Linked DNA regions of Homo sapiens. The protein of the gene in region 1 binds, or shares a complex with, the protein of each later gene. Each region holds a gene or a part of one and is shown in the gene's direction. Other genes may lie near its edges. The genes, in order: NF2, LATS2 and LATS1.

Region 1 (7,000 bases):
TCCTCAGAATGGAATTGGATTAGTGACAGACTTGAGCAGCCGGTTCAGTCGAGAGAGAACTTAATTCCTCCTGTGTTATTCACACGGCTGATTCTAATCAGATGTGAAGAGACAGCTGGAGGAGAGCAGCGGGTCAGCCCATGCCTGGTGCGGAGGCTTCATGTTCTTGTAGGCATCTTCAGGGAACTGGCAGGAGCGCTTTGGGTTGGAGACTCTGAGCAGGGCCCTTGGGTTTATAGCCTGCCCAAGGAACTGGGCCTGGCTGCGGGACTCCCATGGTTGGACCTTGTCTAGATTCAGTGAAAGTTTTGAAGGACAGTGCATGACAGACGTCACTGGTCAGGTTCACCAGAGCTTGGCTCACTTGTCTTCAGAAGGATTCAAAGGCAGTTGACCAGACTTGGCAAGTCCCAGACTGGTGCAGCCACTGTCCTCGAGACCCTGGTTGTACACCCTGAGGTGCTTCTGCTTCATTACCTGCTGAAATTTGGAGACCTCTTCTTCCTGGATAACCTTCAAGATACTCATTGTGCATGCGAGGAATTCCCCGCCCTCCTGGGGGGACTCCACTCCCCAGGCAGGCAAGGTTGGGCAAGGGGAGGGCTGTTGCTGGATTGCCAAAGGGAGCATGGACATTTTTGTTTGGAATTCAGGGTGGGAATGGGACTCACCAGAGTGGCTTCAGTGCTCAACTCACAGTGCAACATAGGACAAGGTGAAGGCCTTCTTGGGAGGCCTCTTCTGGCTCTAGCAAGCAGGTGTTGCTGGGCAGTGTAGAGGGACCCAGGCCGGTTGCTGAGCAGGAAGATGTACCTAACACTGATGGGCCTGCACACCTTAGGGTATGAGAGCATCGCAGGGGAACCAGGAAACTTGTTAGCTGGTTTTCATGTGTTTAAAAAGAAGACTCGGAGGCAGAGTTTATTTTATGAAGGGCTAGCTTTTTGCCATTTCTTCTGAGCTTTTGCCTTTTCCTTTATGAATACTTCCTGCCTATGGGTGTACTGTAAATGTAACAGCCAGTGAGCTTTCTAGAAGCAGCAGATGGTGAAAGATCCACAGGTGAGGAGCCTGCCCACTGGAGGGGCGAGACAGTGCCCAGGCAGGGCGTGCAGGTGGCAGAGCTGTTTGCATGCTCCGCGGGGTGGCTTCCCAAGCTCTCTGTAGAAAAACTGCCTGAGGGCAAATGGCTCCACTGAGCTGCTACCTGCAGGAAAGAAGCTCAAGGGCTCTCCTCGTCTCACTGCCTGCCTTCTTCACCTGCTGGGAGGAGGGCATTGTGGTGTCTGAGATAAAGGATACCCCCAAGGTGGAAGCAGAGCCATGGGGGTGGCCTCCAGCAGCAGGGAGGAGCATTGTGCAGTAAATTCTGACTCCGGGGCTCCTGTGGGGATTGGAACCCATAGGAATTGCACAATGAGGGTAAAGGATGGGGCGGCAGCAGCCAGGTCTGTCTAAGGGGCGAGCAGCAGTGGCCGAAGGCTCCCAGGGCCCTCGGGCAGCAGCCCTTGCTGACCAGTGCAGCCAGGTCGTGGCTGCCTCCAGCTGGTGGGTCTGCCTTCCCCTCTGACCGCCTCAGTGCCTTCTGGAGGACTGTGGCTCTCTCTCCTGCCCAGTGGCTGTGGTGCCTTCCTACTTCTGTGTGGGCAGACTGATTTCCCTCTCTACCTTTACTTGTGGCTGAGGCGAAGCTCCTGCTCTTGCAAGATAAGAGGTGGGGCTGAGGCGCTGCAGTGCAGCTCAGGTGGGGCTCAGGAAGCACCCCACCCACCCCAGAGCACTCTGCATCCTAATAAGCACATGCTCGAGTCACTGGAATCTGGTGCTGCTGGCAGTGCCAGAACCCTCCCCTAGCACCTCGAGGGGACAGCCAGCATGCTCCTCGGGTGGAGGATCCAGGAATTCTTGGAGCCAACATTGCACAAATGGGCAGGAGCCTCTCAAGGCCCCCACAGCCTGGGCTCCCTGCCTGGGGAAGTGGCCAGGCTTCATAGGGGCATCACTTGGCCCGCCTGGTAGGCATGGAGGCCAGTGCCATACGTGACCTTGTTGTTGCCTGCACCCCTTCCTAACGAGCACCCTGCTCCCCACTGGAAGGAGAGGGGCCAGGGCTCCTCCCTCCCCAGGGAGGGGAGAAACGTGATGTTGCTATTAGCAATAACAGCTGCCGAGTTCCCACCATGCGCCAGGTGCAGTGTTGAGTGCATCACACGCGGTTCCCAATTCCTCTGCCTGTCACCCCACGAGGAAGGGGCTGCCATCACGCCCGCTTCACAGTGAGGAACTGAGGCTAGAGGGGAGCAAGTGACCTGCCCAGGGCCACACAGCTGGTCAGTGGCCCAGCTGGGCCTTGCACCAGGCAGCTGACTGTGCCTGTATCTGACTCAAAGTGGCTGTTCTTTTCAGAAACCTGAGCGGAGATACTGGGCTCACATGCTTTCATTTAAACCCTCTCTCATTTTTGCCCCAGTAGTTATCTGGCAGCTAAATCTCTTCCTCCTTTCTTCCCCAGTGACCATTCTGGTTCCCATCATCACAGGGCACATAACTCCTGGCCCTTCTCCTCTGATTACATTTAGGGAGAAGCCCATCCTGATGCAGCTCCCTTCTAGAGGGAGTTCCATTTAGGCAAAAAAGCGCTCTCCATTCCCATCAGAACCGGGCTTTCCAAAGGGCTCTGAAATTGGTTCCACTGAAGAAGGCAGCTGAGCTGCCTCCCCACATTCCGCTTGTTAGTCGGGAACTTCAAGGCCAAAAGATTTGGCAGGATTTAAAGAGTTGCTCTCAAGCTGTCTCATTCTGAGCACACTAATGCTGTCTGTCTTCTGATGGTGAAGTGGTGGGTTTGGAGTCTCCCTCCCCTGCCCTTTATGGAGCCGCCGATAGTACCGAGGACTCTTCACATGCAGACTCGAGGGGTCCAGAGAATGGGCCAGACCATCTTGCCTGCCCCATGGCAACCTCCAGAGGAAAGAGGCTCAGAGAGGTCAGGGGTGTCTGCAGTGAGCTGCTGATGGCAGAGAGTGAGCTCTCGGACCTTCTCAGCCGGGTGTGGAGCTCTTGCCTCTCCCGCGAACCTCAGTTTAGTTATCTTCATAGCCCACGTCCTGGTCGCTTAACAAACATTGAGCTCCTGATCGGCACATAACACTAAGCCAGATATTTGGGGGATATGAAGATGAATGGTACAGACTCCCTCCCCTCCACCCCCGCACTCCTGTGGGAAGTCCCGGAGCTGGAAATGGAACACAGTCACACCCAAGGCATTGATTTCAGGAGTCAGCAGAGAGCAGGGAGTAGGGAGAGTGCTGGCTCCAGATGCTTCTATCCAGGGAGATGCTGGGAAGTGGCCCAGAGTCAAGGGCTTAGGAGGTTGCAAACCTCACTATGCCAAGAGCTCGGTCCCTGATCCACCCCATCCCCTTCCACATCTCCCTGACTGTCCTTCTTTACATTTGCTGGGCAGAGTGCCACCTGTGTGCACCAGCCCTCCCTGCCTGCACAAGCCACACTGAGAAAGCCGTTGCCTCCAGCTCATGGAGAGAAACACCTTCTCAGCTGCCACGTCATGAGCAAGTTTGCTTCGGGACCACCTGGGAAACCAGGAGTAGAAGGGGTAAACTCTTCCTCATCTGCCACAGGCCTGCCTTGCCTCAGGCCACGTCACCTTACCCCAGCCATGTTGCCAGGGCATGAGGACTAAGATGCTTGCCCTGCCAAGCCCGGAGGGGATGAGCAGCCTCAGCTGGTGCCGCCACAGACAGCACACCACAGAGGTGGCTCAGGGACCTTGGTAGATGGGAATGTGAGAATCTATTAAAATAGGCAGGGATCTCCGGTCCTCTGTCAAGAGGCAATGCTGACGGCTTTTTCCTGCTGGCGTGCCTCTGCCCACCAGCCTTCCCCTTGCACATCCTCATTTGTCACCTCCTAATTTGAATTATTGGGCAAATCTGGCCGCTTATTTGGGACTGACAGCCAACTTCTTGAGCATCTATTTGAACAGCCTTCCCTTTCGCTCCCAGCCACCTTTGAGGTGAGTCCAAGTGGCAGGACAGGACCCTGTGTGACAGAGCGGAGGTCTTGTGCCCTCTCAGCTTCTTCTCTGCTTTCTTACAGCTCACCTTGCAGAGCGCCAAGTCCCGAGTGGCCTTCTTTGAAGAGCTCTAGCAGGTGACCCAGCCACCCCAGGACCTGCCACTTCTCCTGCTACCGGGACCGCGGGATGGACCAGATATCAAGAGAGCCATCCATAGGGAGCTGGCTGGGGGTTTCCGTGGGAGCTCCAGAACTTTCCCCAGCTGAGTGAAGAGCCCAGCCCCTCTTATGTGCAATTGCCTTGAACTACGACCCTGTAGAGATTTCTCTCATGGCGTTCTAGTTCTCTGACCTGAGTCTTTGTTTTAAGAAGTATTTGTCTTCCTTTGTCTAATGTGGGATTCCTGACTCCCTTCGTCCAAGGCACCGGTGTGTGTGTGTCTTGCACTCCAGAGCTGACCTCCACCGCCCAGCCTGGGAAGTCATTGTAGGGAGTGAGACACTGAAGCCCTGAGAAGCCAGTGCCATCATCCCCACCCCGCCCAGGGTTCCGGAACATTCATTCCCCCACCGGTGAGGACCTGGCATGCAGCGAAGCAGCCCAGCCCGGCGGATCCCAGGCCAGCACGCCTGCCGGCTTCTCATCGTCAGGGAGCCCGCCCAGAGCTCGTGACGAGCAAGTGCTGGGTCCCCGCCAGGCACCCCGAGGCGGCGCTCTGGCTGGCAGCTGGTGGGGAATAGGCAGGGCAGCTGTGGCTGGGGAGAGACTTTAGGCAGAAGCTGTGATGCAGGCTGACTGCCAGCCGAGGGGCTGGGTAGTGCCGTGCGGGAGCTGATGGTACAGGGCACTCGCTGTCCCCCTCCGGCCACCCTAGACCAGGGTCCGAGAGGCAGGCAGGAGCCACTCATGTCTTCCCCATTGCCCGACGCCCATAGACGCTCCTTCCTGTGTGGGGCTGGGGTACTCCCTGGTCGTACTGCAGTCAGCACCCGTAACCCGGCTATGACCAGGGATCTGTAAGCCCTGTGGCTCCACAGGTGCTGCTTCTCACTGGCCCAGACTCTGAGCTCCACCGGCCCAGTCTGCACGGCCCATCTGCTTCACCTTCCCTCCCAGCCACGTGCCAGTGGCCACAGCCCACTTCCCAACCCACTGTTGTACCCAGGCCTCACTTTGCTGTTGCCCTTGTCCCTCTTCGGGCCCTGAATTTTCTGTTCCCTGGGGGCCAGCCAGGGCCCTTTGTGCCCCTCCCAGCACAGGCCTGATGCAGGTGTCCACTCACAGGTGGCGCTCACCTAGGCTGTCACAGGACCCACCTCCATGCCAGGCAACAGAGGGCCACAGAACCACCCCCACGGCTCACTCCTTGGTCTGGGGCCACCTTCTTGCCCTTTCTTTTTTTTTTTTTTTTTTTTTTTCCGAGATGGAGTCTCTCTCTGTCACCCAGGTGGGAGTGTGGTGGCACAATCTCGGCTCACTGCAACCTCCACCTCCTGAGTTCAAGCAATTCTCCTGCCTCAGCCTCCCAAGTAGCTGGGACTACAGGCATGCACCACCACACTTGGCCAATGTTCTGTATTTTTAATAGGGACGGGGTTTTGCCATGTTAGCTAGGCTGGTCTCAAACTCACACCTGGGATTACAGGCATGAGCCACTGCACCCAGCCCCTTCTTGCCCTTTCTTTTCTCCATGGCTGATGCTGCTGTGGCCAGCCAGGGCCCTTGAGATCCTTCCAGTTTGGCTGTTATGCAAAGCAGGTGATTTGTCTTAATCAGATAAAAGATAGAGGCTATGGGGGCCTCAAGATTTTTGGAGAGCAGAGGTGGTCTCTGGCAATTCCATCTGGTTTTGAGAAACTTAGCAGCTCACAGAGCACAGAGATCCTGCCTTCTTCCTACTATCAGGCTGACCTAATGGGGTTGGGCTGCTCGGCAACTGCTTGGGTCACCTTGCCCCAAGGAAACCAGCCCTGGGTGCCACCCAGCCACTTAGGGTCTACAGGGTGGGACTCCAGACCTAGAGCGTAAGTATGGATGTTGTGGCCCTGTGTCTTCCTAGTGTGACCCAGCCAGGAGCGGAAGCTTCAGGCGTTTGTAAAGTGAGGTCTGGCTCTGCCTCCTCCGTTTTTTTTTTTTTTCTGTTTCTGTTTCTGTTTTTTTTTTGAGATGGAGTCTCGCTCTGTCGCCCAGGCTGGAGTGCAGTGTCACGATCTCAGCTCACTGCAACCTCCGCCTCCCAGGTACAAGAGATTCTCCTGCCTCAGCCTCCCGAGTAGCTGGGACTACAGGCGTGTGCCACCATGCCTGGCTAATTTTTGTATTTTTAGTAGAGATGGGGTTTCGCCATGTTAGCCAGACTGGTCTCGAACTCCTGACCTCAGGTGATCCTCCCACCCCGGCTTCCCAAAGTTCTGGGATTATAGGCGTGAGCCACCATGCCCGGTCTCTTCTCAGTCTTGAAGCCCATCCCTGGATTTCCACCAGGAGTTACTTTCCTCCTGACCTGTAAATTTGTTCTTTAACAATGGCTGCAGGTGGGAGCATATGGTGGTTTATAAAAACGCTGTCGGGCTTTGTTTCCTTCTTTAGCTGCCGTGTCTACTTCTGAAGTCTGGGAAGTGCCAAGCCACGCGGCCTCAAGGGAGCTGGCTGGTGTTTGAGCTGTGGCAGAAGCACCTGGGGCTCCAGGGAGCAGGCTGGGAACTGCAGGACCTTGCTCAGCCAGGAGCACTTCCCCCTCCTTGAGGCAGGAATACTGAGGTGCCTCCCCACAGATGGAGAAGGTGGAGAGGAGGATGGGCCTCAGGAGCATCTCAAGCCCCAGTAGCAGGAGAAAGAAAGAAAGAGATGCCTGGTTTTCACAGACTGGTTCCTGTGGCTGGGATGACTGCATCCTTTTTTTTTTTTTTTTGAGACGGAGTTTTTGCCTTTGTCGCCCAGGCTGGAGTGCAATGGCGTGAT
Region 2 (7,921 bases), on another chromosome or scaffold:
CTGTATATGGATATAAAACGACTCTAAAACAAATGAAACAAGTCGATGTTCCGTTTTCTTCTCGGTTGTCTGGGTCTTGCATGATCTGATCCTATTCTATTTTTATGCTACTGCCCATAGAGAACATTCTTCTGTAGTTAGGCAGATTTTATTTTATTTTATTTTGAGATAGAGTCTGGCTCTGTCGCCCAGGCTGGAGTGCAGTGGCGCCATTTCGGCTCACTGCAACCTCCACTTCCTGGGCTCAAGCGATTCTCGTGCCTCAGTCTCCTGAGTAGCTGGGATTACAGGCATGTACCCCCATGCCTGGTTAATTTTTGTATTTTTAGTAGAGAAAGGGTTCCGCTACGTTGGCCAGGCTGGTCTAGAACTCCTGGCTTCAAGGGATCCGCCCGCCTCGGCCTCCCAAAGTGCTGGGATTACAGGTGTGAGCCACCGTACCCAGCCATAGTTGATATTCTATAGGAGCCTTAGGGAGAGAACCCCTACACTATCCTGGCTTCACAACTGCAGAGGCCTCACAAGCAAGTGGATTCTCTGTGTCTGCTAGGCCTGGAATCGTTCTCTGCTTTGGTTGAGGCTGGAGACACAAGTCTCTGAGTTCCCCTCTTCCTCACTCCACAAAGTCCATTCCCCTTTCAGAGGAAGTATAAGGGAGTAATTTGTTTTCAGTTTCCTTACTTATGAGTATGTTGTAATCATGTGCCTTTTTTTTTACTTTTTTTTTGAGATGAAGTCTTGCTCTGTTGTCCAGGCTAGAGTGCAGTGGCTTGGTCTCCACTCACTGCAACCTCCACCTTCTGGGTTCAAGCAATTCTCCTACCTCAGCCTCCCGAGTAGCTGGGATTACAGGTGCCTGCCACCACGCCCAGCTAATTTTTGTATTTTTAGTAGAGACAGGGTTTCACCATTTTGGCCAGGCTAGTCCCGAACTCCTGACCTCATGATCCACCAGCCTCAGCTTCCCAAAGTGCTGGGATTACAGGCGTGAGCCACCATGCCCAGCCTCATGACTTCTTGAGATTATCTAGAGAGGGCATTATAATTCAGTGTTTCCAATCTCTGGAGTTAGATCTATGAAGGTCTGAATCTCTGCTCTTTGATCTTGGACAAGTTACTTGAGCCGTCTGCATTTCAGGATCCTTTTTTATAAAATGGGTTGAATAACATGGTCGTTTTGAGAATTAAATGATATAATATACAAATTTAGAGCAATACTTGGTATAGAATAAGGACACACACATACACATATGTATATACTATGTCAGTTAATTTATACACTCCAATTTTGTTACTACTGTCCGCTCTATGCTCAGCTGGTCTTGTGTTGTCTCTTTTTCTCCTCTTCTCAGCTAGATACATTATGTAGATGTGCTTATTTAACTGATTAACTTTAAAACATTTTCTGGACCAGGCATGGTGGCTGAAGCCTGTAATCCCAGCACTTTGGGAGGCCAAGGCAGGCAGATCACCTGAGGTCAGGATTTCGAGACCAGCCTGGCCAACATGGTGAAACCCCATCTCTACTAAAAATACAAAAATTAGCCGTGCATGGTGGAGCATGCCTATAATCTCAGCTACTCCAGAGGATGAGGCAGGAGAATTGCTTGAACCCGGGAGATGGAGGTTGCAAGGTTGCAGTGAGCTGATATCTCACCATTGCATTCCAGCCTGGGCGACAGAGCAAGACTCCATCTCAAAAAAAAAAAAAGAAAAAGAAAAAAAGAAAAAAAATTATGTTAACTATCCTACTATAGAAGTATCAGGAAGTATAAGACAAAACCATTCAGAATCACTACACTACATCCAGAGACTACCACTTTTAACATTTGGCTGTGTAATTTTCTGGGCTTTAAAAATAGTTTAAAAAATATACATGTGTACATAGTTTATTGTATATACATATAAAATAAACTTATATTGTTGCTGTTTTTCCTTTCTTTTTTTTGTTTTTAGTAGAGATGGGATCTTACTCTGTTGGCTAGGCTGGTCTCGAACTCCTGGCCTCAAGTGATCCACCCATCTCAGCTTCCCAAAGTGCTGGGATTACAGGCATGAGCCACCATGCCCAGCATGTGTTTTTCTTGAACACCTCTACCTCTACCACACTATAAACCCCATCAGGGGATAAATCTTATGGTTTTGCTTACCATGTTATCCCAAGTATGATTTATTTTAGCACATGGCTCATAGCAGGTACCAATAACAAAACAAAACAGAAACAAAACAAAACAAAAACCCAAACATGGGTTTTTTAATTTTAGCACATGGTTCATAGCAGGTACCGATAACAAAACAGAAAACAAAACAAAAACCCAAACATACAACAACAAACAAAAATGAGAAGGAATGAATGACTGCATGTTAATAAACACAAATCGTTAATCACAACATTCTTCCATGTGAGCGTGTCAGCTTTCCCAACCAAGCCCCTATCTTGGAAACTTGTTTCCAATTTGTCTGTATTCATATATATATATAAAATTTAAAATTTTTAATGTTTTTTAAAAAAGGCACAAAGAATAGTATAGCACACATTATTGAACCCAACCTCCCAGAACCAACAACTTTTAAGATTTTGAGTTTTATTTCCGTTTTTTAAATAAAAGAAAGCATTGTAAAGTTGAAGTCTTCATTTTTTTTCTCTGCTCAATTTCCCTCCTTCCCTCTAATATAAACAACAGCTGTCATGAATTTGGTGTGTGTGATATTGCATTCTATGTCTATACTTATATAAAGTATGTGATCATTTTAGGTTCTGTGGGATTTTGATTATTTATAAATATGGTATCACAGTGTATATATATAGTTCTGCAACTTGCTTTTTTTCACTCCACAGTGCTTTTGAATTCTTTCTACCATCATTTATCCTTTACAACTACAGAGCTAGTTCATTAACTTAGCTACTGTGTATATTCCATCATTTGGATATCTACCTTTCATTTTCCTACCCCTTGACTGGACATTTGGGGTTTTTCTCAATTTTTCACTACTGCAAACAATGCTGAAATGATCATTGTAACTGCAACATTTTTATTAGGTATTTTATGCACAAATTTTAAGGTCCATTAAATCTATTTTATAATATTTTTCATTCCACAAGTGTTTTAAAAATTATTTTTACATCTTTGAAGGCAGAGCAGGAGCAGGATCTTTAAACACACAACAAAAAAAGATTAGCAGCCATGTGGCTTGGGGTTGGGGTGGAGAAAGTATAGTCAGCTTAAGAGTGAAAAGAAGGCCAAGCATGGTGGTGTGCGCCTGTGTTCCCAGCTACCCTAGAGGCTGAGGCAGGAGGATGGCTTGAGCTCAGGAGTTCAAGGCTGATGTGGGCTGCAGTAAGTTATGATTGTGCCACTGCACTCCAGCGTGGGCAATGGAGTGAGACTCTGTCTCTAAGAAAAAAAGGAAAAAATGTGGAAAAGTACATAGGTAATGCCAGTAGGGCTCAATTGCAGAATATTGGCTGGAGACTTATTTTGCTCCCAGTACTGTGCAAGATATCTGGGTAGCATACAGGATACTATCGAAAAATTAAATTGAATTCTAAGCTGCACGATGATGGTTTCTTTTTTTTTTTTTTGCACACTTCTGCTGGCAGGAAGGGATTACGGTTTGATTATCAGAGCCCAAAGAAGAGAGAAAACAGAGATCTGAGAAGATTCCCTGGAAGAGCTGAGGCCTTAAGAGATTGAAAGAGAGGGAGGGGAGGAGGATGAACCAGGGACTGAAGGCTGGGTGAGACTGTCAAAATAGTGCACAGATAATGACCTTTACTACTGTTTCCCATGAGAGTAAAATTTAAAAATTTCACAAGAGTTTGTCAATTAAAGAGGAAATCGAGTTGACTTTAAACACTATATTGACCCTCAGCATCACTTGCCACAGATATAGGTGGTAGGAAGTATGATGTTAGGAGAGCCAGAAGTAGACTGAGGATTTGGCTTCCAGTCTATTATTTCTACTGTGAATCTTTGCACCATCCCTGCTTCTGTCCCTGTACCAGATCCACAGTCCTCAAATGGATAGTGAAGCTGTTCAAAACCCACGACCTCACTTGCTGGTATATACGGTACTATACTATTCCCTACACCATAAAATACTTCTCAGAAAGAAAATATACATGGGGAGGGGAGGTTGATTAAATTAAATCAGGTTAAATTTGGGTGTGCATCAGACGTTCTTTTTTTTTTTTTTTTGAGACGGAGTTTTGCTCTTCTTGCCTAGGCTGGAGTGCAATGATGCGATCTCAGGTCACCGCAACCTCCGCCTCCCGGGTTCCAGTGATTCTCTTGCCTCAGCCTCCCGAAGAGCTGGGATTACAGGCATGAGCCACCACGCCTGGCTAATTTTGTATTTTTAATAGAGACGGGGGTTTCTCCAAGTTGGTCAGGCTGGTCTCGAACTCCCGACCTCAGGTGATCCACCCGCCTAGACCTCTCAAAGTGCTGGGATTACAGGCGTGAGCCACCGCTTCTGGCAAACGTCCTTCTTAATTGTTTGATTCCACTGTCCCAATAGCCGTCTGTCCTTTTCTGCCCCTATTTTTAGTGTCCAGCCACTAGTTGGTAACTTGGTGGCTCCTTCAGGCCTGCTAACTTTTTTTTTTCTTTCACCAAGACTGGTATGAGATACTTAAGAATAGTGGCTTTAACGACAGTTACCAACTTTTAATACAAATGCAGTCGAGAGGGCAAATACTCAAGTTTGGGGGCAGATAGCAGCCAGTCAAATAGGTCCGAGAGGCCCTGGCGAGCTACCGCAGGCCAGCAGGGAGGCCGTGGGCAGGTGGCGGTCGAGGCCGGAGGCAGGAAGCACGGCCGGGCGGGGCTGGGCGGAGCGGCCGCGGAGGAGCAGGGGCCGCAGGCGCCCCGCCCGGACTGGTATGCGGCCGAGAGTGACGCGGGAGGCGGGGTCACGTGACGCCCGTGGAATGCCAACAATGTAGCGAATGTCCCACTTGGGTCTGCGCTTTGGAACCGCGGCGTGAGCGCCCCGGGAAGATGGAGCAGTCGCCGTCCACGCCACCGCCGCCGCCCGGGGCTCCCCCGTCCCTGCGGGGCCAGCAGCAGCTCCAGCCACCAGTGCCCGGTCTCCCGGCGCGAGAGGCCCGGGAGCCGCCGGCCAGGACGCCCCCGAGGGTGTAGACCGCGCCCCTGGAGGTGAGGGGGCTGGGAGCTGGGGTCGGGGCGGCAGCTCGGAGGGTGGCGAGAGTTTCCGCGAAGCGGTCGAGCCCTGCGGCTCCGCGCACCTACTGTGGTGCCGAGGCTCCGGGAAGGGCGCCCGGCGGGGCGGCCGAGGAAGTTTGTCCGGACGGAGCCCTGCGCCCTGCCCCCACGGTCCGCGCCCGCCCGGAGCCGCCCCCGCCCGGCGGCTCGTAGTCCAGGCCGTACGGAGCCCGCGGAGCCGGTTCCAGAGGAGCCGGGGAAGTTGGAGGCCGGCGTCGGGCGGGGGCAGCGGGGCTGCGCCGCTTTGTTGTGCGGCGACCGGGGCGGCCGGGATCCCGGCGGGGCAGGGGCGGCGCGGGCCGGGGGCGGTGTCCTAGACCCGAAAGGCCGTAGCGCCGGGCGCGCCTCTGCTTCCGCTGTCTCCGGGGGATCGGCTTTTCACTAGACGCCCGGCCGGGCGCCCCTGACAGCCTCGGGACCCCCGGTCCGGCGGCGCAGCGGTCCCACGGATCCGGGGCCATCCTCCCGGCCGCGCCATCGTCCCACGGGCCAATCAGTCCTTCAGAGCCCGCCCTGTTGGCCCCCGCCGGCCGCCCCGTCGTCCCGCGAGCCGACGGACCCACGGCGGTGCCGCAGTCGAGGCCGCGCCGCCCCTCAGCCCCCGGTGGCTGCGCCGCCTCACCCACTGCCGCGCGGTTCCCACCCCGTTCCCCGCGGCCGCGCCGCCGGCTCACGGGCCAGTCAGCCCCTCAGAGGCCACCGGACCCTGGGGGCGCCGTTCCTCCCGGGCTGCGGGCGGCCAGGCCCTGCTCGGCGTCTCCCGGCCGGCTGCCGCGCCAACTCTGCGAGTTTGCTCACGGTCTTGGCGGGACGCGGCCCGAGGCGCAGGAGCGCTTTCGTGGCCACGCGAACGGCGGCCGTTGCATAACACGCCATTCCCGTGCCCTAGTTTAGCGACGTGTGGGGGGTTTGGCTTTCTCTTCTGATGTAAGCTCACCTGCGCTTAGCTCCCCAGCCGGACTCTGGAGATGGGGATTCTGACATCATTCACATCTTGCCATCACATCCTTCAGCCCAACTCCAGAACTTCTGGGGAGCTTTCCCTCGGGGATGGAGTGCGGCCTGGAGCAAACCCGTTTGTGAAATGCAAGTCTCCAGTGTCCCGAGGGTTGGGAACGGGGGGCGAGGCGAGGAATGGACCCTGAAGAAGGTAAAACCCACCCGACCAGGGCGCCAAGCAGCCGGTAACAGGGTCCCGAGTTAGCTCGGCGGCTGGCGGCTGTTCTGAGGCCTTTGGATGAGAAATGCTATTTTGCGAGGATCACCATGAAAGAACTTAACTTGCAGATTTTTTTGACAAAAATGTTGTTATTTTAAGACAAGATCTCGCTCTGTCTCCCAGGCTGGAGGGGAGTGGCGCGATCTCGGCTCACTGCAACCTCCGTCTCCCAGGTTCGAGCGATTCTCCTGCCTTAGCCTCCCACGTAGCTGGGATTACAGGCCCGCGCCACCAGCCCAGCTAATTTTGTATTTTTTAGTAGAGACGGGTTTCGCCGTGTTGGCCAGGCTGGCTCTCGAACTCCTGACCTCAGGTGATCCACCTGCCTCCGTCTCCCAGAGTGCTGGGATTACAGGCGTGAGCCACCGCGCCCCACCTGACAAGAATTTTGAACAAGAACTTTTACATTTTCACGCTTCTCTAGGATGGATATGAGTGTTTTTTGTTGTTGTTGTTGTTGTTTTTTGAGACGTTGTCTTGCTCTGTCGCCCAGGCTGGAGTGCAGTGGCGCGATCTCGGCTCACTGCAACCTCGCCTCCTGGGTTCAAGCGATCTCCTACCTCAGTCTCCCGAGTAGCTGGAATTACAGGCGTGTGCCACCACGCCCGGCTAATTTTTTGTATTTTTAGTAGAGACGGGGTTTCGCTGTATTAGCCAGGATGGTCTCAATCTCCTGACCTTGTGATCCGCCCGCCTCAGCCTCCCAAACTGCTGGGATTACAGGCGTAAGCCACCGCACCCAGCCAAGAGTGTTTTTAATGTAATAGCATTAAAAAAATTATTTCACCTTAACTACTAAGCCATAGAGTATACATTTGGCCGGTAAAAAATTCAAATTAATAGCTGAACAGCTCTTTTCACAAAGTATTCAACAAATACGTACATTTTTAAAGGAAAGTTTGCCCGTATTTTAATAAGAAACAAATATACTGAAATTTGAATGGGAAATCACAAAAATGTGTGTGATCTTGCACAAGTGTTTTGCTTAAAATTTTAACTTAGAAGATGAGGGGCCTTCCCTTAATCATGGAAAAAGTAACTCATGGCTGATTATTAGGAAATTTGTGCTAAATCTTGTTGTATATTTTTGGTAAGCTGCTTTGTATGTTTTTTTTTTTTCTGTAACAACCGTTGTAATAAGGTAGTAACAGAAAAAATATTCCAAAATGAGAACGTATAAACTGTTTATGACGTCTATTTAACTGTAATTAACAAGTCAGTGTCTCACAAAATTTTGTCTCATGCAGGTATAGAAGGCACTGAATATAATAATAGTGTAATGAATATACCAGCATTCCTTTGAATATAAGTTGGTGAACATTTAATAACTTTCCAAATCTCAGGCAGTTTAAGGTATCTGAGCAGAGGCTAGCCTGTCTTGCAAAATTACCAAGGTGAATTACTAGAATCATTGAATTATAGAACTGGAAGGGATTCTTCTGGCTTCTCCATCGAGTTTGAAATAGTTTAAGTG
Region 3 (7,154 bases), on another chromosome or scaffold:
GGCTGAAGCTGACAATGAATGGGTAGTTCGTCTATATTATTCATTCCAAGATAAGGACAATTTATACTTTGTAATGGACTACATTCCTGGGGGTGATATGATGAGCCTATTAATTAGAATGGGCATCTTTCCAGAAAGTCTGGCACGATTCTACATAGCAGAACTTACCTGTGCAGTTGAAAGTGTTCATAAAATGGGTTTTATTCATAGAGATATTAAACCTGATAATATTTTGATTGATCGTGATGGTCATATTAAATTGACTGACTTTGGCCTCTGCACTGGCTTCAGATGGACACACGATTCTAAGTACTATCAGAGTGGTAAGTAAACTCATAAAATTTATTTTAGTTTGTTCATAATAATGTAATTTATTGATGTAGTAAAATATAAGATGGTATCATCACTGGATGAGAGCCAGAAGATGTGGGTCAGGTCTTGATTCTGTTGGATAAACTTGGGTGACTCCATTAGGCACTTAGACTTATGAAATGAAAGAATGTGCTAGACTTGATTGTTTAGACTTATGAAATGAAAGAATGTGCTAGACTTGATTGTTTCTAAATATTATTAACATTTTTGAGTCACACCTTTTACATTTTATTTGAAAATATGCCAGACAAACAATTTTTTTTTTTTTTTTTTTTTGATGGAGTCTCGCTCTGTCGCCCAGGCTGGAGTGCAGTGGCACCATCTTGGCTCACTGCAATATCCCCCTCCTGGGTTCAAGTGATTCTCCTGCCTCAGCCTCCCGAGTAGCTGGGATTATAAGCACCTGCCAGTACGCCCGGCTAATTTTTGTATTTTTAATAGAGATGGGGTTTCACCATGTTGGCCAGGCTGATCTCGAACTCCTGACCTCAGGTGATCCACCTGTCTCAGCCACCCAAAGTGCTGAGATTATAGGTGTGAGCCCCCTGCGCCTGGCCAAAAACATTTTTAAAATAATTTTTTAATGAATCCTCATATCCAACATTCAGTTAAAGAACTAGATTATCAGTACTTTAGAAGCCCTTAAACAATCACTTCCCCTTTTCTCCTCCACAAAGATAATTATTATTTCAGAACTTTATAATCGGTTCTTTACTTTTATCGATCCTTTTATCACAAATGTGTATATCTTTAAATAATATATTATTTCATTTTGCCTACTCTTTAACCTTTATTTAAATATAATCTATATATATTCTTTGTGTTGACTTGTTTGAGGTTCCTCCATGTTATTGCTTGTAACATTTATTTTCACTACTATTTAGGATTTCATTACATGACTGTTACACAACTTATATAACCCTAAACACTTTATGATCCTTGATCCTATTTTATCCTCACAATGTCACTGTGAGGCAGGATGAAGAAACTGAGACCTAGTTAGATGAAGTAACTTGCCCAAGGTCAGACAGAAATCAAGTGTAAGGGCTAGGCTTTGAACCCAGGTTTGTCTGATTTCAGGGCCCATGTTATTTCTACTACACCACACTGCCTCACCAAGATCCCTCCAAGCGCTAATGGAAGTGTAAGTCAATCTAACATTTGTTAAATACTATGTACTAGGTGCTTAACCATATATTCTAATATGCTCGCAACAATTCTCTGAGGTAAGTATTATTAGCCTCCTGTGCTTCTGTGAACACAAGTAGATTGACATTAAAATGGGTAGAACTGAGACAATTGAACCTACTTTAATGTTCGACATAGTGGAATTTAGTGTCTTCCCAGATTCGACTGAATTATTACCTGGAAAGCTTCTTAAAAATATGATTCCTAGGCTCTATTCCCATCTTTTGATCAAAAATCTTCACTGGGGCATAGAAATCTTTTTGTTGTTTTTTGTTTGTTTGTTTGTTTGTTTTTGAGACGGAGTCTCGCTCTGTTGCCCAGGCTGGAGTGCAGTGGCGCAATCTCGGCTCACTGCTAGCTCTGCCTCCCAGGTTCACGCCATTCTCTTGCCTCAGCTTCCCGAGTAGTTGGGACTACAGCCGCCGGCAACCACGCCCGGCTATTTTTTTTTTTTTTTTTTTTTTTTTTTTTTTGGATTTTTAGTAGAGACCAGGTTTCACCGTGTTAGCCAGGACGGTCTCAATCTTCTGACCTCATGATTTGCCTGCCTCTGCCTCCCAAAGTGGCTGGGATTACAGGCGTGAGCGACCACGCCCAGCCTGTTTGTTTTTTTTTTTTTGAGACGGAGTTTTGGTCTGTTGCCAGGCTGGAGTGCAGTGGCGCGATCTCGGCCCACTGCAACCTCCATCTCCTGGGCTCAAGCGATTCTCCTGCTTCAGCCTCCCAAGTAGCTGGAATTACAAGTGTGCTCCACCACACCCAGCTAATTTTTGTATTTTTAGTAGAGATGGGGTTTCACCATGTTGGCCAGGATGGTCTCAATCTCTTGACCTCATGATCCACCCTCCCTGGCCTCCCAAAGGGAAATCATATTTTAATCAAACATCCCAGATAAATATTACAGTTAGGTTAATTTCTTATATTCTAGGTGACTTCATGCCATCTATATGTCAATGAATTCCAAATCTCTCTCTCCAGAAATGGCCTTTCTCTGAAATTCGTAATTTCTCTATCCAGCTGCTTCCTGGCTATCTTCACATGGATTTCAAATAGGCCTTTCAAACTTCACATGACCCATAAAGAACTTTTTTTTTTAAGCATAAATCAGATACTGTTATCTTCTTGCTTCGAACTCTGCAATATCTTCTCACTTTACTTGAGGTAAAAGGCAGACCATTTCTATTGCTTGCAAAACCCACATGTATTCCTGCCGCATTTCTTACAGTTCTTGCCCCATTTCCTACAGTTCTCCCCTTTATCAGCTGTGCTGGTCTTCTCTCTGTTGCTGTTATTTCTGTGTGGAATACCTAATCCTGATTTATAAATGGTTGAGTCCTTCTTGTTTTTTTACGGTTTAGCTGAAGTCACCTTCTTAACTGGTCTTCCCTAGCCATTCAGTCTTATGTAGCTATCCAGTCACATTTGTTACATCACCCTGTGTTGATTCTCTGTGTAGGGTATGTCACTGTTCCTTATATGTGTAATTGTTTTGTTTCTTTTCCTACTAGAATGTAACCAGAGCTTTGTCTTATTATCACTGTCATTTATTGAATGAAAGATGGATCTAATTTGTTTGAAAGTTTGTCCAGAGTAGTAACAGGGAGTGGGCTAAATAACAAACTCTTAATCTCCCCATGACTCATATTGTTGTTATTTAACATTGCATAAATTACTAAATCTTAGGCTAATTTTTTTTAAGTGTAAAATCCTTCCTATTGACATCTCAGAAAATAGGCTCTAATTGGTAATAAACACCATCAGTGATTTGGCATACATTGTGTCTTAGTTTGTCACAAGGGAGAATGTTGTTAACCCTAAACCACGATGTCAGAAGATTAAATAGACTTCAGGTTTACTGTTGTCATTGTTGACTTTATTTACTTATTCTTTTGTTGTGCAGGTGACCATCCACGGCAAGATAGCATGGATTTCAGTAATGAATGGGGGGATCCCTCAAGCTGTCGATGTGGAGACAGACTGAAGCCATTAGAGCGGAGAGCTGCACGCCAGCACCAGCGATGTCTAGCACATTCTTTGGTTGGGACTCCCAATTATATTGCACCTGAAGTGTTGCTACGAACAGGTAAAGCACTTCTTTCATATATATTCTCAGTAGACCTTTAGACCAGCCAAAACGACACTAGAATATGCCTTATTTTTCAGGCTTATAATAAAAGTATTAATTTTAAAGTATAAATTGGTGATTTAATGTTAATTTTTATTGTATTCTGAGCATTTTTAAAGTGCTTATAAATAACTTTGTTATTTTAGGATACACACAGTTGTGTGATTGGTGGAGTGTTGGTGTTATTCTTTTTGAAATGTTGGTGGGACAACCTCCTTTCTTGGCACAAACACCATTAGAAACACAAATGAAGGTAAGGTATGGCATCTATATCAAAAGAATTCTCACAAAGTTGCTACATCATTGACTTTTATTTATTAGTACGTAGAGCATTTTAGTCTGGAGTTAAAGAATGAACTTGGGCCGGGTGCAGTGGCTCACACCCATAATGCCAGTTCTTTGGGAGGCTGAGGCAGGAGGATTGCTTGAGCCTAGGAGTTCAAGATCAGCCTGGCAACAATGTGAGACCACATCTCTACAAACAAATATTTTTTAATTTAAAAAAGGAAAAGAATGAACTTGTAAGGGTATAGGAACTCACCAGAATTGCATGCGTGAACTCCAGTCTCCATGATGCCATATCCCCATAATCTTGTATCCCCCCTCACTCATACAGCATACTCATATATCATATATCATTCTCAAAAAGGTCTTTAGGCCAGGCACGGTGGCTCATGCCTGTAATCCTACCACTTTGGGAGGTGTAGGCGGGTGGATCACCTGAGGTCAGGAGTTTGAGATCAGCCTGGCCAACATGGCGAAACCCCGTCTCTACTGAAAATACAAAAATTAGCGGGGTGTGGTGGCAGGCGCCTGTAATCCCAGCTACTTGGGAAGCTGAGGCGGGAAAATCCCTTGAACTCAGAAGGCGGAGGTTGCAGTGAGCCAAGATCTTGCCATCGCACTCCACCCTGGGTGAAAGGGCGAAACTCCTCAAACAAAACAAAACAAAACAAAAAGGTCTTTAGTCCATTTTGAAGATTTAGTCCAGTTTACTCTTTGTCACCTACTGCCTCCTGGCCTTGTCTCCTTCTATGCAAACTACAAACAAATGTTTATATCCCCACTTGAAAATACCTCTGGCACTTAAATGAGAAGTTACCCACAATTTTGACCATACACTGTCTGATTTAATACTCTTTAGTGATTGTCCGTGGGTTAAAGTTGAAATTTGCCCTCTGTTCATACCGTTCCCTCTGTCTGGAATGTCCTACTTCCATCTCTCTCTTCTATAACCCTTCCTCCTTTCTGAAGTCTAATTAACTCTTGGTCATTCTCTCTTTTTTTTTTTTTTTTTGATACAGAGTCTTGCTCTGTCATCAGGCTAGAGTGCAGTGGCGTGATCTCAGTTCACTACAACTTCTGCCTCCTGGGTTCAAGCAATTCTCGTGCCTCAGCCTCCCGAGTAGCTGGGATTACAGGCATGCGCCATCATACCCAGCTAGTTTTTGTATTTTTAGTAGAGACGAGGTTTCACCGTGTTGGCCAGGATGGTCTCAATCTCCTGAACTTGTGATCTGCCCGCCTCGGCCTCCTGATCATTCTTAATTATTCTTTGAGGGCCAGACATGATGGCTCATGTCTGTAATCCCAGCACTTTATTTATTTTGAGATAAGGTCAAAACATTTCACCTAGGGTGTAATGCAGTGGCGTGATCTCCTCTCATGCAACCTCTGTCTCCTGGCTCAAATGACCTATCTCAGCCTCCTGGGTAGATGGGACCGCAGGTGCATTTTTTTTTGTATTTTTTGTAGATACAGGGTTTTGCCATGTTGCCCAGGCTGGTCTCAAACTCCTGGGCTCAAGTGATCCACCCACCTCAGCCTCCCAAAGTGCTGGGATGGGTGCAGTGGTTCACACCTGTAATCCCAACACTTTGCAAGGTCGTGGCAGACAGATCACTTGAGCCCAGGAGTTTGAGACCAGCCTGGGCAACATGGTGAAACCCCCTCTGTACAAAAAATACAAAAAACTTAGCCAGGCATGGTAATGCATATTTGTGGTCCTAGCTACCTGGGAGGCTAAGGTTGGAGGGTCACTGGAGCCTAGGAGACGTTGCAGTGAGCCATATTTGTGCCACTGCACTCCAGCCTAGGTGACAGAGTGAGATCCCATCTCAAAAAATAAAAAATTTGGCTGGGTGTGGTGGCTCACACCTATTATAATCCCAGCACTTTGGGAGGCCAAGGCAGGTGGATCACCTGAGGTCAGGAGTTTGAGACCAGCCTGGCCAACATGGTGAAACCCTGTCTCTACTAACAATACAAATATTAGCTGGGTGTGGTGGCGCGCCCCTGTAATCCCAGCTACTTGGGAGGCTGAGGCACGGGGATTGCTTGAACCCAGGAGGCAGAGGTTGCAGTGAGCTGAGATCACACCATTGCACTCCAGCCTGGGCAATAAGAGCAAAACTCTGTCTAAAAAAAACAAATTATTCTTTGAGAGTTTCCTGAGATTCCATCGTTTCTTTGATTTCCACCTTTCTTAAGCTATAACTTCTTCAGTCATTGCATTTAATATAGAAATGGTTTTACATTAGCCGGGTGTGGTGGCTCATGCCTGTAATCCCAGCACTTTGGGAGGCTGAGGCGGGTGGATCACCTGAAGTCGGGAGTTCGAGACCAGCCTGACCAACATGGTGAAACCCCGTCTCTACTAAAAATACAAAAATTAGCCGTGCATGGTGGCTGGTACCTGTAGTCCCAGCTATATGGAGGCCCTGAGGCAGGAGAACTCCTTGAACCTGGGAGGCAGAGGTTGCAGTGAGCCGAGATCGCGCCATTGCACTCCAGCCTGGGCGACAGAGTGAGACTCTATCTCAAAAAAAAAAAAAGGAAAAAAAAGAAATGGTTTTACATTTTAAAACTTCTTTTAGGATTTTTTATAGTATAGGTCTGCTGATAAGGCATTCTCTCAGGTTTGTCTCAGGTATGTCTGAAATTATCTTTATTTTGTCTTCATTTGAATATATTTGTGTGTAGGTGTATGAGAGAGAGAAAAAAAATTGTATGCTTTCTCCCTAAGGTTGAGAACAAGGCAGGAATGTCCATTCTCATCAATTCTATGTTCTGGAATCTTAGCCAGCATAATACAGCAATGAAAAGAAATAAAAGGGCTGGGCGCGGTAGCTCATGCCTGTAATCCTAGCACTTTGGTAAGCCAAGGCGGGTGGATTGCTTGAGCCAAGAATTGGAGACCAGCCTGGGCAACATGGCGCAACCGTGTCTCTACAAAAAAAATAGAAAAATTAGCCGAGCATGGCAGTGTGCACCTGTAGTCCCAGCTACTCACGAGGCTGAGGTGGGAGGATCACCTGAGCCTGGGGAGGTCAAGGCTGCAGTGAGCCATGATTATACCACTGCACTCCAGCCTGGGTAATAGAGTAAGATCCTATCTCAAAAAAAAAAAAAAAAAAGAAAAGAAAAGAAAAGGAAGAAGTAAAAAATAAAAACTTCCCCTATTCAAAAA

What was found.
Region 2: the proteins of NF2 (region 1) and LATS2 are in contact, whole or in part, in a crystal structure (PDB 4ZRI), measured with the Homo sapiens proteins. Residues at the interface, in NP_000259.1 of Homo sapiens: Pro135, Glu136, Ala137, Val139, Leu140, Tyr144, Asn175, Leu176, Tyr177, Gln178, Met179, Trp184, Arg187, Trp191, Glu206, Lys209, Ile210; in NP_055387.2 of Homo sapiens: Tyr73, Ala76, Leu77, Glu79, Ile80, Arg81, Ser83, Leu84, Leu85, Phe87, Ala88, Asn89.
Region 3: the proteins of NF2 (region 1) and LATS1 are in contact, whole or in part, in a crystal structure (PDB 7LWH), measured with the Homo sapiens proteins. Residues at the interface, in NP_000259.1 of Homo sapiens: Pro135, Glu136, Ala137, Val139, Leu140, Tyr144, Asn175, Leu176, Tyr177, Gln178, Met179, Met183, Trp184, Arg187, Trp191, Glu206, Ile210, Asp213, Leu214, Glu215; in NP_004681.1 of Homo sapiens: Pro69, Lys70, Phe71, Gly72, His74, Ala77, Leu78, Glu80, Ile81, Arg82, Ser84, Leu85, Phe88, Ala89, Asn90.

The regions. Positions count from the first base shown.
Region 1 is NC_000022.11:29,690,633-29,697,632, forward strand, and holds part of NF2 (merlin), read left to right. Parts: intron 1-4,119; coding exon 4,120-4,170; coding exon of another isoform or gene 4,171-4,177; 3' UTR 4,178-7,000. UniProt on the Homo sapiens protein: Probable regulator of the Hippo/SWH (Sav/Wts/Hpo) signaling pathway, a signaling pathway that plays a pivotal role in tumor suppression by restricting proliferation and promoting apoptosis.
Region 2 is NC_000013.11:21,058,587-21,066,507, reverse strand, and holds the start of LATS2 (serine/threonine-protein kinase LATS2), read left to right. Parts: upstream 1-4,921; 5' UTR 4,922-5,162; intron 5,163-6,102; exon of another isoform or gene 6,103-6,378; intron 6,379-7,921. UniProt on the Homo sapiens protein: Negative regulator of YAP1 in the Hippo signaling pathway that plays a pivotal role in organ size control and tumor suppression by restricting proliferation and promoting apoptosis.
Region 3 is NC_000006.12:149,673,044-149,680,197, reverse strand, and holds part of LATS1 (serine/threonine-protein kinase LATS1), read left to right. Parts: coding exon 1-323; coding exon of another isoform or gene 324-331; intron 332-1,452; coding exon of another isoform or gene 1,453-1,516; intron 1,517-3,460; coding exon 3,461-3,643; intron 3,644-3,831; coding exon 3,832-3,938; intron 3,939-7,154. UniProt on the Homo sapiens protein: Negative regulator of YAP1 in the Hippo signaling pathway that plays a pivotal role in organ size control and tumor suppression by restricting proliferation and promoting apoptosis.